Linked DNA regions of Homo sapiens: region 2 is linked to region 1. A link means that fine-mapping ties the variant in region 1 to the expression of a gene that starts in the linked region. Tissue or cell type: whole blood. Region 1 holds a variant in brackets; the other region holds the start of a gene. All regions are shown on one strand. Distances are between the middles of the regions.

What was found. PIP is the estimated chance that this variant, and not a neighbour inherited with it, causes the effect.
Region 2: it holds the start of PIP4P2, and the variant in region 1 is fine-mapped to the expression of PIP4P2 in whole blood (INTERVAL, PIP 0.98).

Annotation. Positions count from the first base shown.
Region 1 is chr8:91,346,660-91,354,770 of GRCh38, forward strand. SLC26A7 (solute carrier family 26 member 7) reads left to right here. Exons shown (of 19, transcript NM_052832.4): 10 at 5,151-5,228; 11 at 6,242-6,337. Among named protein-coding and RNA genes, the nearest start is that of SLC26A7, 100 kb to the left of the region's middle. The variant AGTAG/A (reference allele first, on the strand shown) is at 3,275.
Region 2 is chr8:91,036,499-91,044,606 of GRCh38, forward strand. It overlaps PIP4P2 (phosphatidylinositol-4,5-bisphosphate 4-phosphatase 2), which reads right to left and starts at 4,361. Exons shown (of 7, transcript NM_018710.3): 1 at 4,146-4,361. The coding sequence starts at 4,251. RefSeq lists a silencer at 4,383-4,582.

The DNA.
Region 1 (8,111 bases):
TACAAAATGCAAATGTGGTCATGTTATTTTTGCTTAAAGTCCTTAAAAGGCTTTGCGTGGGTCTTAGAATTCAGACATTTCTGCTGTCTACCAGGCGCTGAGTGCGTCCTGGCACAGCCTCCTCTTGGCCTGTTCTCCACCTCATTCTCAGACCTAGTCCTTCTCCAGCCCTTGTGGGTTCCAGTGTCTGTTCCCTTTGTCTTTGAGGCTGCCTTTCCCTTCCTCTCTATGTGAATTCCTCCCATCCTTCGTATCTCACTGCCACTTCTGGGTCTGTCATGTTCCTCTTTGTCAGCGTCCTTAGTGCTATTTGACATTAAATGTTCATTATTGTGATTATATGATTGATGTTACCCTTCTATCCTTGACTTAAAGCTACTGGAGAACACAAAACCTTGTCTGGTTTGGTTCAGTGTATCCTCAGTGGCTAGCCCAGGACCTGGCATGTGGTAGGTGTTAGGTAACTACTACAGAAAAGAATGAATGAGAAATGAGAGCTTCCAATAACTATAAAAGAAAACTACCAGTTTTGCTGACATTAGAAGAGACTGGTCAGGCTGGACAGTTCTTTTTAATTACTGCTTAATGTTGCACATTTACAGAAAATCCCATTTAAAACCAGGCTTAGGATCATGCACTTCAGAGAAGCACTATTGAACAGAAACATAATATGAGCTACACAGATAATTTAAATTTTCCAGTAGCCACATTTTTAGAAGTAGAAGAAATTGATAATTTTAATTTTATATTTTAATTTCCCTAATGGAGTCAAAATATTATCATTTTAATGTTAATATTTCAAAGTTAATAATTTAAAAGTTATTAATGATATTTTAACATTATTTTCTTCTTGGTACAAGGCTTCAAAATCTGGTATTTTAGATTTCAGCATACCTTAATATGAACTAGCCAAATTTCAAGTCCTCAAGAGCCATATGAGGCTGTTTTGACAGTGAATTTGGGACAATTTTATATAGAAGTGAGTTGATGGTAAAGACTTTCAGTGCTTTAGAAAATGAAACCAAATGTTTGGATTGGAACAACAAGAGTTACTGATCATTTAACACCAAGTGCCATGGTCATCAGACTCATTTCTATCTTCCATATGAAGAAACCCTTTTTACAGTGACCCCCTTTAGATGTGACACCCAAAGCATGCATATCTAAGAAAGGTCTTTAGGGGAATAAGAAATTTGTGGCACAGCTTAGACAAATAGCACAAAAAAATTACATTTCTTCCTTTTCTCCTTCCCTGTAAAGAACGGTAAGTATGGGAGGGAGCTCAGTGTCCCCTGGCTTTCTTCCTTGCATGCTTCTCTTCACTTCCAACAGAGGAGATCCGCTGGTGCTCTGCAGGGAGCTCGGGAGGTATACCCAGGAGGGATGAGAGACTGTGTCTGCTGCACAGGCAGCTCAGCCACAACTGAAAACAACAGCTGGCATGTTTTTCTGCAACACTGAGATTGTCTCCGCATTCTAATTTGCCAAACTGTATTCCTTTATTCTTTTGAAATTTGGCTAATTGCTTTCATCTCCTTTAAAACCTTCTTAATCTAGCTTTAGTTATCTAATGTCATCTCTCTCTTTTTTTCTTTCTGCCCTTTCCCATCTCTTTTGCCATTTCACTACTTTCCACAAGACTGCACATGCAGTGAGTTCGAGAACTACTTATGCCTTCTTTGACAACTGCTTAGGAAGTAAATGGCTGGTTTCTCCCTCTACTCCCAACGAAATATCTAGGTATGGATAATAAAAATGCATGTATGGTCATCTTTGTAACTAACATAGAGCATATAAAATAATTGTTTGAGAACATAACAAGAATAAAATATAGATTATTTCATTATCTTTTATGCAGAATTAACTCTTAAATATCAGTAGTTATGATTTTGAAGCAAAAATATATTTGGTCATTTAGTTAGTATGATGTGGAAAGAAGGAGTTAAAGAGTAAAATCCTAGCCAGTGTTTGCCCAGTGGGTAATTGTGTGAACACTTTAATAAGTGCAATAGAAGCCAACCTGAAACTTATTAAGAAGGAGCTAGTTTTGTTTTTTTTTTCCTGAGATTAAAAAAGGAACAAGCTCATCTCTTTTGTTCTGGTTTTAACTTGTTTTTCAAATTTTTCTCAAGGTAGGTCAGAGAAAGGCAAGAAAATATTACCTCATATGCAAAGTAAAATATACGAAGAAAGTAGATGATATTTGAAATATAGCTTAAGTGGGTTATTATAGAATCCTGAAATTAGAGAATTCTATTTTATACACTGCAAATATTTGATCTTAATTTGAGCTCTTTTTGAATTTACTGAGTTGGCCAGTTAGGGAATGATGGCTTTCACTGCATAATCTCAAAGATTTTTTACGAATCCAAATTTCAGTGTCCTGGCTTCTTCTTTATGAAGAGAATGAATACCAGTATTTTGAGAGCTTTGAGGGCAGACACTATAATATTAATTTCCATGACTGGGGAGTATATACACTGGACAGAGCTTAAGAGTTTCTTGTCTGATTAGATGAACTTATCTTTTGACCAAGGGCATCAACAATGATAAGGCAAGTGCGTCAAGGGAGCTAACATAACCCATTTGCTTATGGTCTATTTCATTACATGACTTACCATTTAAGGTAAACAAATAGTCTTTTTCACCCACAGTTTGTCACCCTTTACCAAATAAGATCCATTTAACTCTTGACTTATTTTTACTACAAGACTGAAATTGTAATTCAATTGTTGTTAATGAACATACAAAGCACCATGTAAATAAAAGATAAATTAAATATTATTTAGAGAAAAGCCCAAATGTAGTTGTGATTTACTGTTTTTAAATAGAATTATTTAGTTAGGTTGTAATTTCTATAACAGCTTTAGTGTACTATAATAAATTTGGGAACCTTAAAATATATTTGGCGTTTTTGGATCCCAATTCAGTACATATTTTATATTACCTTCGTGCTTTCTAATTCCCTAGCTCTATGACCTTGGCATAGTCACTTTGCCTCTCTGTGTCTCAGATCCTTCCAAGTAATTGCAACTGCATGTGTACAAAGTTCATTCCAGCTCCTAAGATTTAGGGTTTTGGTTTCAGGTACATTGTAAAGATATGAGTGAAGAGTCCCACAAAAAGGGTACATGCCATTGTCTTTTGTCTTAAAATAAACCTTAGCTGTTGGTATTTTTTTCTTTTCATGTAAACATGGAATTACTGAATCACTGACTGAGCTCTCTGACTGGATCCTGTGAGCTGCACTCTGACACCTACCTCGTTGCAGTAT[AGTAG/A]AATGTCAGGCATCATATTTTATTGTTTAAAAATTCTTATGTAAAATCACCAATTGCTCCTAAATGATCAGGATAGTGACAATTTGGTGTACTATAACTTTTTTTATGGGCAATCATTAGTTCCCCTACTGATTTAATTCCCAAGTAAGAATTGTTTTTCCCCTTTGTATGCTGACGAGTGTTTGTGATGAGTTACACAAACTATGGAAGGGAGAACAGACTCCCTCAGCCTCTGCCAACAGGGAAAGGCCTTGAATGACTGCTTGCTTAGCAGAATAATTATAGCTACTGCCACTCCACTCTCCTTCTTCCCATATACACACACCTTTTAATAGTACCAGGTTAGGACAAGTGTTGTGGGTGTGGACATATGCATGTAAGCAATTGTTAGAGATCTCTTCCCAGGTTTCTTTTTTTTTTTAAATTAAAAGTAAGGTTTATGGAGGTATAATTTAGATATAGTAAAATTTATTCTTTTAAGGTATACGGTTCACTTTTTTTGAAAAAAAAATTGTTGTATAACAAGTAAAATCAAGATATAGAATATTTCTATCACCCTAAAAAGTTTTCTCATACTCTTTTGTAGTCAATTCTTTGCCTCCACCTCCAGCCTCTAGCATCCTATAATTTATCTTTTTTTCAGAAAGTCATATATATGAAATCTTATAGTATGTAGCCTTTTGTGTTTAGGTTCTTTCATTAGTTTAATGATTTTGAATTTCATCCATTTTTTTAAATTGCTGAGTTGTATTTTAATGTATGGATGTACCACACTTTATTCACCAATTAGTTGATATTTTAGTTATTTATGATTTTGGCATTTATGAATAAAGGTTCTACAAATATATATTTAGGTTTCACGTGGACATATGTTTCATTTCTCTTAGCCAGTCCTGAGTCATAAGGTAAGTGTATGTGTAACTTTATAAGACACTGCCAAACTGTTTCAGAGTAGCTGTACCATATTGTATTCCCACCAGCAATGCCTGAGAATTCCAGTTGTGCTGAGTTTTTGCCAGCCTTTGATATTGATTGTTTGTTTATATATTTATTTTTAATTTAAGCCATTCTACTAGGTCCAAATTCCCTTTGATATCTCCATAATGATGTTCTAGGCATCTCCATGGCCTGTGAAAGCCTTCTTTTCTCTTGTTAGGAAGGCAGTTTGGCCAAATGTTTTATTAGGTCCTGAACATTTGCTTCTGTGAAATCAAGTTCTCCATCAAGTGGAACATGACTATAGGAGTCAGGTGAATTGAACTGCCTTTTGTCAGCAGGCTGGTTGGTTAGAACATGATACTAATGGCTTTTCAGGTTTAGTAAAATTAAGTCTGTTCCACAGCCAGAGATCACTCCCATATCCCATATAACTACTCCACAACTTGAGCCTTTACTAACAAAGAAATCCAAAGAACAAGGTAAATGCTTCAGTGGAAATTATCAGCACAGAAAAATCCTAAGCCACATATTCAGTTATTGCTCAAACAACCTCCTACAAAATAAGGAGGGGAGTCAGGCTAAACAACAACAGGCTAAAGAAATTTTAATTGAAATGTCACTTTCACTATTAAACAAAAAAGCCATCACTGTGATTGTGATAAAAGTTGATGGTGTCCTGTTTCTTTGTGTGAAATTGCTTTTCTCTCATCACTGACTTAATTTGATTGCACCAGTTTGTCAGCTGTCACATTTGGCTTCCCTCAGTTGCAAAATATAGATAATGACAGTCTAAGCAATTTAACAGTTATGTGTCAACATTTTACTTCTTCTAATCAAGATAAACTAAGAATTATCCCCCCCACCCCATAACTTTGACATAATAAAAAAGTTCAAGGCTTTCTTTTTCCTTTTTGTCTGTCTTGTATTTTACAGGTGGCTTGTCTAATATCTTGCATTTTCGTCCTTATAGTCATCTATGCAATAGGACCTTTGCTTTACTGGCTGCCCATGGTACGGTAGTGCTTTTTCACTATCTACTTTTTAATTTAACTTTTCATGAGAATCATTGCATATAAAATTTCTTGGAAGTATAACCTCAACAATCCTAAATGTAGAAACCATGTTACAGAAGTAAAGTTTGAATGGGGGAGGTGTGGAAAGCTACCACATTTGAGGCAGGCGTGGGAGGGGGTACCGTGGCTGTTTTTTTTTACGTTTTTGGCTCTCACATAAGAATGGTATTGTGGAACTAGATTCATTCTGTGCTCATCTGGAGAGTGGAACTAGGCATATTCTGTTATAAGAAGTATAAATTTTACTAAAACTTTGACTGTTAGAAAAACATATGTGCTGGGGCAAGGAAATAGGAAACAAAATACAGCTTCCTGCTGTTGATATATCTGTTACACAAAGTGATTCAGAACATTAGTGCCAGTGCTTCACCTTCTTCTTCATAAGCCTGAGGCACTAAAGGAATGCAAAACACTGGGCTTATGAGAGCCAGTCTCCATCCTTTGTTATTCTAATTTTTCATGTGTGTAGTGAGAATAAACCATTTCCATGGTAGGATCTTCCAATAATCAAGTTCGCTTTTCAAGAGAGTTATAAATATCTTCAGGTGAAATCAGATAATTGACATTTAAGGCAATTATAAGAAAATATATGATATACATATTTAATTTCATGCAACAAATACTTTTCAAACAAATGACCGTGAATACGTTTAGTTAAGAGGGCATTTAGCTTCATGATGTTCACCCTTACCATTTACTTATTTTCTTTTTGCTCTTGTTGTTTAGAATTGTACAAATATTACCTTATGAATTCTAGAATATATATTATATTCCTAAAGTGCAATAATAGGTTAGTTTTAAACAAAATAAATATTGCTTTTGTCTTCTAATCGGTGATTGCTTTTCTCTATTAAGTACTTTAAAAACAAAAAAATAAAAATACCTTAGCCCTTTTAAATTTAAGTTAAAATTTTTATGTTGCTTCTTCTTCAACTTACGTTTTATTTCTAGTGTGTCCTTGCAAGCATTATTGTTGTGGGACTGAAGGGAATGCTAATACAGTTCCGAGATTTAAAAAAATATTGGAATGTGGATAAAATCGATTGGGTAAGTAGAAATTTGACCTAAAACAATCCCTTTTTAGCTTAAGCTTATGTTACCAAATATGCACTAATACTTTTATTTGCAGAAAATAGATATTGTCATTTGAGACTTGTACACTTTACAAACTACCATTTTTTTTCCAAAATCTTAATAAAAGCATTAAAATATAAATTGTCTTCATATGAAACAGAAATAAGAGTTTGGTCAAATTTTGATGAATGTATAGTTTGAGAACTTTTAAAGAAATGCTAATAATTTCAGTGGATTTGGGATGCCCAATTTACAATATGAATTAATTTTGGAAGTAAGACTTACCAGGGAAATAGACACTAATAGAAATATGGCAATTTATAACCTTTATGAAAAACTATCATGAATCACTAAGAATGCACGCTGCGCGCATATAGGGTGAACCTCTTAATGGTGACCACTGTCATTCTAAATACAAAAGGTCTCATGAATTGCCTTTTAAATGGGTTACATTAAGAGGACCATGCTTGAAACAGATTAAAATATATTGAACCATGATAAAGTGTGATTTCTACGAACATAAATAGCACACTGATTCTAGAGAAACCTATCTATGCAAGAGCAATCCAGAATTCTCTCCCTCTCCAATATGGGAGAAGTACTTCATGAGTACCCTCTGTTTAGCTCTATTATGACAGTCACCATATTGGAATATAATTATTAATATGAAATACATATTTTCTCTTCTTCAGATCATTTTCTCTGAGAGGTTTTGGGATATTATTTATGCTGGTGCCTACTTTTGTAATATTCCTCCTGGGGCTCAATATTACTGAGCTCCCACCAAAGTATAATGCTGGGCACCATGAGGAATGTGCAGATGAAAAAAGAACTATCCAGTCTCTCTAGACAGTTATTTGTGGAGGCAGTGGACATAGAAACACTAAATTATCATGCAAGACAGGATACAACATGACCTGGAAGGAAAAGTAAGAGCTTAGTTTTGGGGAAAATAGAGGCAGAAGCATTTAATTTGGACTGATTAACATGAAAGACTCTCACAGAAGAGCTGAAATATGAACTGAGACTTGAAGGAACAGTATTTTGTAGGCAGAACAAAAGGCCAAAATTAACCATGACCTTTTAAAGGTGATACATGTTAGGTGGCTCATGAAAACAAAGAAATGAGAAGATGCAAACTTACTCAACAAGCTACTTGATAACCCTATGGTTAAGTTATTTCTAAGGAACTCATTGATCATATAGGAGGCAGCATGTTACCATATTGGAAAGGGTAGAGAAGATGTCAAGTAAGATTTCTATTAGGAAGTTGAGAATTGAAGAATTGCATTACCTGGAGAAGAAACAAAGAGAATCTCATATGCAAAGATACAGAGATGAGTGTGAACATGTCTGTCTCTGAAAAAATCAAGGTATTTGGCATGGGTAGAACATATAATGTGAGGATGGGAGTAGTGACAGATGATGTGGAAAAGTTAAGAATGGGTTGGATTGGGCAAGGCAACTCAAGTTTTACAAAGATGACTTGATTTCATTATGAAGGCAGTGAAACATCACTGAAAGGTGAAATAAGAATAAAATGTATGTATTAGAAAGGTCACTTGAGTAGTTTGAGGAAGATGGATCAAACTGGTGAAGTATACAGGAACTGGAGCACTGCTTTAGCCCTTCAGGCATATAAATGAGGAAGACCTAGACCAAGGCTGAGACCATGAAGTACAAGAAAGAATCAGATGAAAAATATTAAAGATATTGTATTTGTTAGTCCTCACCACCAGTTCATTAT
Region 2 (8,108 bases), 310 kb before region 1:
AATCCATCATCAAGCCCTGTTCAATCCACCTCCTTAACATCATCCTTCATCTCTCCATCTCTACCACCACCTGAGTCCAAGCTACTGAAATAGTTCAGTTAAATTGCCCGAATTATTACAATAATCAAGGAAGTCATCTATTCTTGTCTACTCTAGCCAATCCTCTAATTCATTCTCTAATCTATAGAGTGGTTTAAAAACTAATAATAAAGATTTAATCCAGTCATCCCTTTGCTTATGGCAATATTCCTTAACATGACCAACAATATCCTGGATGGGCTGATTCATATTCATTATTCTGGTCATCTGTTGCTGCAGAACAAGTTGGCCACATGTGGTTGTAGTAAGAATTTGGCTAAGGCTGGAGTCATGTGAAGGCTCAATTGAGCTTGGCATCCAAGATGGCATCTCCCTTCACATGTCTGAGGGCTGGTCAGGCATCTTTCTCTCTACCAGGCTAGTTTCAGGTTCCATAAAGCATGGCAGTCTCAGAGTGTTCCACTTCTTACATGACAAGTTACTTTCCCCAGAGTGTACTTTACAAAAGACCAAGATAAAAGCTGTAAAACCTCTTCTGACCTACCCTCCAAAGTCATTCAGCATATTTTCTACCTTATTCTAGAGGTCAAAATCAAGTCATGGCATCAGCCCAGATTCAAGGGGAGGAAACTGAATATCAGAAGACATAGTTCTTTGAAGGGGAAAGAGAGTCTTCGGAGAATATCCACCATACCTATCTCTCCAGTCCCATTTTGCAGTGCATTTCCTACTGCTGTTTCCATTTTAGCCACGTTGGCCTTCCTTAAGTTCCTTGTATTTGTCATACTCCACCCTGCTGATCACTTTGCCAATACTGCTTTCTTTGCCTATAATGGTCTTCCAGTCCACCTTTTGCCAAGTTAACTCTTGCTCAACTTTCAGATCTCATTCAAGCATCAAGAAAGCCTTCCCCGACTCCCTCAACAAAATTAAATCTTAATTTATACTCTCAAGGTATTGCATATATTTCCAGCACTGTCTTCATCACCATTGCATTTTGCATCTGTTTGTGTGATTACATAATTTATTTCTCAATACCCCCACTACACTGGAAGAGGAGCCATGACTATTTTTCTTCTCCTACCACAGATTTGGCTGGTACTCAAATATTTATTTGCTGAATAATAAACTAAGTAAATCAAACTGTCTGCCTCTGTATAACAAATTATTATTTTCCCTTTATGAATTATAGTGAAGTATATAATCCCATTTCCATATTGAATACATAATGAGACAACCCCAGATATAAACAATTTTCACAGAAAAAATCTTATAAATTCAAAGGTCATATTCTTTTGTTATATCCTAACTACAAAATTAGCAGATGTATAAAGGAATCAATTAATACATCAAAACTGTGTAAATTTTGTGGTATTTCTTCCAATCTCCTTTCAGATGAGCCTAAAACTCTCTTTAATTTTAATTTCTATACCTAAACAAAAACTGGCAAGTATATTAAACGAAGCACTGCAAGCAGGAGAGAAGCAATTTCCTATGCATGAATCCAATACTGACAGTAGAGAACACTAGACATGCTCCACTTAGAAACCAACATGGATTGTTACACAGACCACACATGATTTTTCTTGTGCTAAAACCAAACACACAATACTAACTGCTCCCTGCTACATTATTAATAATCTGTCTAGAAATAAACACTCCACCGACTTTCAACCTGAAATGGACTATTTCATCTTGGAGGTGGGAACTAACATTCCTGTACTTTAGAAGGTAAAAGAAAGAGAAAGGGGTCAGATTGGAGAAAATATTCACTAGTTATAGCTTTTAACTTCTTTTTTTAAAAAAATAAAAGTCTGAATAATTGTAAATGGGATCATTAACTAAAATTCATTATCAGAAAGTGCATTCTGTTTCTGATTGAATTCCAACTGTCAACCCTAACGGTTTTCAACTACCAAAAACATCTGATCTAGTGATAGAATTTTTTTTACAATCTGAAATAATTCAGCCATGTATTTATTTATTCTTTCTCCCTAATACAATATAGTCTTCATGAGGGTATGGGATTGATCACTCTTGTTCCCCTAGAGCAGTGTATGGCACATTGTGCTTCCCAATAAATTAATAAATGAATGAATAGTGGTGGTCTTCCAGATCTTGTGTATTACTCATAATATTTATTACAATGTTTGTTACTTATGAAGAAAAATATTCTGTCAAAATGCAAATAAAATGCTTTTACCTCTCATTTATGCTTCTTCCTTAGTAGGTGTTATGTCATATGAAATTAAGAGTTTCTCTAATCATCTAACCTGTCTCATTCACCAATTAAGAAAAAATGTATTCTACCATAAGGCAGAAGCAGCTTTTTGCTAAGTCATTGAATTTCTCTGGTTGTTAAAAGTTTTCTACAATGACACTACTTTTTCTCAGTGGCTGAACTGGAACTTATACTTGTGTAGTTTGAGGAATCTTATTAGGTTAAACAAATATATGGAAAATAATAAAGATGTCTATAAGCTGATCCCTGAGTGTAGCCATTTTTAAAAAATAACTTATCCACTAGTTGAGGGCATGAAAATAGGTTATAGGACAAATACTTAAATTGAAACTTTGTCTCCTAATAAACCGCCAAACATTTTGCCATAAAAGGCTGACTTGATGAAGTTGAAACATTCATTAGTGAGTGTTTAAGTCTATTCTACATAATACGATTTAGATAACAGTAAAATATTCATATCAAATTGGCCCATTAGAGGAAATTCTCTTGCCTGGTGTCCTCTGATACAAGTTTAATGCTGACCAACAAAAATGACCTGTAGGTTTTCTGTGGGCAAGTCTCTCTCTGTGCCTTATTTCTCAAGCCATGGCTCACACTGAATTATTTACAGCTAAGCATCTTTTTCCTTTGTTTTTCTTCTTGTTAAGTATGGATTAAGATCTAGATAGTTTATTTTGAAGTTACAAAATGTTAAATAGAAATTTTAAATACTAAGCAAGTTCAACCTGCTCTACATCAGCTCTAATTCCAGACTTGAACTTAAAAACTTGTATTACAAGAAACATTACCTACTTATATTTTCAAAATCATTAACTTTTGCTTCCTTGGGTTTTTAAACTTTGCTCATATTTAGCCAAAAAAAGAGAGAGATGCACTTAAGGAACATTTGCAAGTGCCATTTTGACCAATCTTTTCACTAACCTAAGTGGGTTTTTTTAAGTCTTGCCTTCCATTTTCTTGTAACGCCTGACTCCACCTTATTTATTTACTATAGTAATCAACTAAAAGGCTTAGAACAACGATCGATTTTTAAATAAATCGAATAGTATGGTAAATAGATTCCATATTTCTCCAGATCCCATTGCATTTAATCTTTTTTTATTCTTCTTGAGAAAAAAATAGAAATATATGTATTATTAATTTGGGTTACTTTTTACAAGTTAATTTCAATCTCACCCAGATATGTGTTAAAAATATCCCATCTTCCCTTCTATGAGAAGTAAGGTCCTTCCTTCTCATTCACAATTAAATCTAACACATACTCCTTGAAAGTAGGAGTAAAAAGGAGGGGCAGGAATTTCAGACATATTAGGAATATTGATTAACTGTATTCATTTTGGATATGGCAATTCACTGAGTGAACAGAGCACTGTTGGGTGAATGGTAGCAGAAGCATATTGTTCAAGCTAAAGCCCTTTCAAGGACAGATGCCAAGGTGAGCAATACTCCTGGTTTCTCAGCAACGGAAAAAGATTTGTGAATGATTGTGAAAGATTTGCACCACCTCCTAGCTGCGCTTAGGGGCTGTTCTGAAAACAGCTAAGCAGAGCTTGGGAAATTCATGTCACATACTGTAGCCCTGGGTAAGAAGTGGTGAAATACACACACACACCATCACCACCACCACCACCACCACCATCACCACCACCACCACCACCACCATCACCACCACCACCAGAAAAACCCTGCGGAGAAGCTATCAGGCAGGCGGGCTTGCCTGGGAAGGCACAGTCAGCATCCTTCCTCAGCCCAAGCGAGAGGCTCACCTCCACCTCCAAGCTAGAGCTCCCAGGTCTTTATCCTTCTGGGCGTTTCCTTGCAAATCTACTTCCTTGCAAAGTAGAGGGATCTACGCTGGCCTTACCTCTGGGGCTGCTTTCTTGCAAGTACGGTGGGGCGGTGGGAGTGACATTTCCGGAGTGGGATGCTGACAGCAGAGGCGAGCGTTCGTCCACCCCATCAGCAGCCATGACTGCGGCAGCGGCGGGGCCTGGGGAGGCCGAGCCGGGGTTGCGGCCTCGGCGGAGTGGTGGCTACTGCTGCTGCCTCTGCTGCCGCTGCTGCCGCTGCAGCTGCTGCTGCTGCCGCCTCCGGGAGGGCCCGGGATGTGTCACAAGGCAGGAAGCGGGGGGAGGGGAGGGGAGGGTGCAGGACCAGGAGGCGGGGGAAGGGAAGCGCGCTGGGAGGCATGGCTGGGGGAGGGGAGGGGAGGGAGAAAGAAAGAACCCGCAGAGTGGGAGGAGCAGCAGTGGAGGAGCGGGAGCCCAGCCAGCCAGAGAAAAGGGGAACAAATTAGGACCAACTGGGAAACGCGAGGAAAAGAAGATGCCAAGTAACTGAAAGGGGGTCGAGAGTAAATGGGATGGAGGGGGACAAGTCCTTTGCTCTAGGAAAGACGGATAAAAAGCAGCCTGAAAGGGGCTAGCGAAGAGGAAAGGCCTGTGACTTGATTACAAGAAAACTGGAGCAAAAGCAGATTATCAAGTTTATCTCCCCTAAGGAGGAGGAGGGACTGACTCTTTGCTGTCAAACTTTGCAGCAGTTATATAAAGAAAACATCTTCCTGGGGTTATCAATTCCTCTAGGGTTTTTTTGTGGGAAATCAGTTTTCAACATCTGTTATCTAAGAGAAAGTAGATCTTTGCGGAAGTGTCAGCATTCCCTACTTTTCCTGATTGATTTTTTTTAACAACAGGAATGTTGGCCTGACCGGTTTGGAACTCTGGTAACAGTACCTTTTTGGAACTATGCAGTGTGTTGCCTTTTACAAGTTTCATTTTACAAAATAGGTTGTCATCTTAGTTTTGGTTTTGTAGCCTATTGTCCCTGACACATATACAGTAAGTAGGTTTATGAATAACGTCAAACAACGAAAAACAAGTTTCTTGAGACAAAAGTTTTAAAATAATCGTTTACTTGTAAAACAGAGTTAAAACACAAAAAACCCTAAGCACTGACAAAGATTCTTTGCTTGGTCAAACAAGTAAGGTTTCTGAATCTTATGCTGGGCCCATCTGCACTTCCTTATAAAATCCAGTTTTAGCAAAGAACCCTACTAACTTAATTTAGCAAGAAGCCCCATTCTCAATATTGATATTTGATCAGGTTCCTCATCCTCCAGCATCCCCCATGTGAGGCCTGAACTCCTGTTCTGTCTTCAGCAAGAATCCCGTTTGCTTGGTTTAGTCAGAATCCCCCTTATCCCTGATATTTCCTTGGTAATTTTCCATCTACTGCCCCTGTCCTGCATGCTCCTAGGCTATAAATTCCCACTTGTCCATGCTGCATTCAGAATTGAGCCTAATCTCTTCTTCAACATGGCAAGACCCTGCTGCCATGGTCCCTATACCTATCACTATAGCCCTAAATACAGTCTTCCTTACCATGCTTTGACAAGAATCACTGAATAACTTTTTTCTTTAAAAACACAGTTCTTGCCATGTTTTATATGTTTTTCTTTTCTTTTTTATTTGGTGGTTTGTCATATTATCCAAAAGTAGTTTACATGAATATGAAAACAAATTAAAGTTTTGAGGCCAGGCGTGGTGGCTCACGCCTGTAATCCCAGCACTTTGGGAGTCCAAGGCAGGCAGATCACCTGAGGTCAGGAGTTCGAGATCAGCCTAACCAACATGGAGAAACCCCATCTCTACTAAAAATACAAAATTAGCGAGGCGTGCTGGCGCATGCCTGTAATCCCAGCTACTCGGGAGGCCGAGGCAGGAGAATCACTTGAATCCGGGAGGCAGAGGTAGAGGTGAGCTGAGATCGTGCCGTTGCACTCCAGCCTGGGCAACAAGAGTGAAACTCCGTCTCAAAAAAAAAAAAATAAATAAAGTTTTGAACATGTCTAAATAAAAATGCAATAGAAAAATAGTAATGATCTAGGATGATAATTTTTCTGCAATAATTTTTGAGTCACTCAAAAGAAACATTTATTACTCATTTACTAAGTCTAAAAGATAACTACGACATGATCTCAATCCTCAAGATGCCTGAGAGAGTCAAAAACAAGTGGAAAATGAGGCTAGCTGTAGATTTCAGTGAGCATGAGGCAAAGCAGAAGTTAGACATACGAAACTATGTTTCAAATTACATTAGGAAGGATCCTCACTCTGCTTTCTAAAGATACATTCTTTCTTCCAGAAAAATCCACTTAGGCATCAGCTGGAAATCCTAAGGGGAAATCAAATAATGATGTTTGCACTCACGCAGCATCTTTTGTGGATCAGTAGCATCAGGATACAATACAATATAAGGATCCCTATATGATATAAGGGCATTTCTAGGTCTCCAGGAACCTGGAAAGTACAGAATCAAGATGTAGCACTTCCTGCAAAAGTGCCTGTAATTTACAAAAATGAACAGCAGTGTTTTTATAACTGCAGCCTGGAGACTATTGAGTTAAAGAAAATTATGAGAAAAATCAACAAAATCTTACTACTATAGTATTCTGTCGTGTTACCTGTCACACTCCATTGTGACAACTCCAGCCCCAACCAAATTTCTGAGGTCAGAAACCTATCTATCTTATTTATAACTAGATCTCCAGTATCTAGCACAATGCTTGGCACATTAGTAAACACTCGATATTTGTCAAATAAACAATTGAGTGAATGAACAAATATACACAGTCCCAGAATCTTACTAAAACAAAATGTTTGGCACAAAAAGATTAAGAACATTTCTTGGCATTTTGATGAAGATGACAGTTTTGCCATCTGACTGATCAATTTTTTTATTCCATCATACCTCTACAACTGTCTTCTTTTTTGCCCATGTAGTGATCAGTATAAAGGTTTTTTTTTTGTTGTTGTTTGTTTTTTTCTTTACTTCATTATATGGTTTCTCTACTGCAGAACTCATTTGAGGCTCATGACAGTTACTCTTCTTACACTACAAAAGGTAGTAGATATACTGAGATTATATTTGCAGCAATCTCAACTTCCACAAAAAGCAAAAGGCTTTTATGAGATGAGTACTACTTCATTCTAGGTTAAAGATCATACTATGGTTTATGGTTTCTCAATAGTTGTTAAATAATACTCATCAATCCAAGGTATTTTTATGATTATGATTATGATACTTTGCCATCTCTATTCATGAGATGAGCTAATGTGTCTATTGGAATAAAAATACTCTATAAACAGATAATATGTGAGATCTAATGTACTTAAGCTGTTGTTTCAGCGATCTACTGCTAACAAACCATACCAATACTCAGTGGCTTAAAACAACATGAGTTGTTATTTTCTATGATTCTGTAGTTGACTGGGTGGCCATTCTGTCAGACTTGCCTGAACATTCAGGCAGCAGCATTCAGCTGGCAGGTTTGCTGGGGGCTAGGCTCAGCTGGGAAATTTGGGCTCACTGGGCAATTCTCTTCATGTAGTCTTTATTCCAGACTTCCTCATATACCTCGTATTCTCAGAACACTATTCTAAGAGGATGATGGTGGAAGGTAAGGGATCCCTAAGATCTAGGCTCTGGTTCTCAAACATCGCTTCTTATCACATTCTCCCACCATCAATGGCTTTCTCAGCCTGCCTCCTGCTTGGAAAAAAACAAGCACCTAGAGGCCTCGTCATGATCAAAGGAAGTCACAAGGCTGGTGGAGGAACAGATTCCATCACTTCAAGTGAAGAGTAGCAATGTCACAATGCAAAGGGGTGTGGAACACAACAAGGCATGATCCACTGGATGCTATTATATAACAGTCTACCATAGTCTGCCCACTGGTCACTGTGGTTCACATCCCCCTCACAGGCAAACTACACTTATCCACTCCCAACACCCCAAAGTCTAGTTTAATCACTAAAGTCAACTT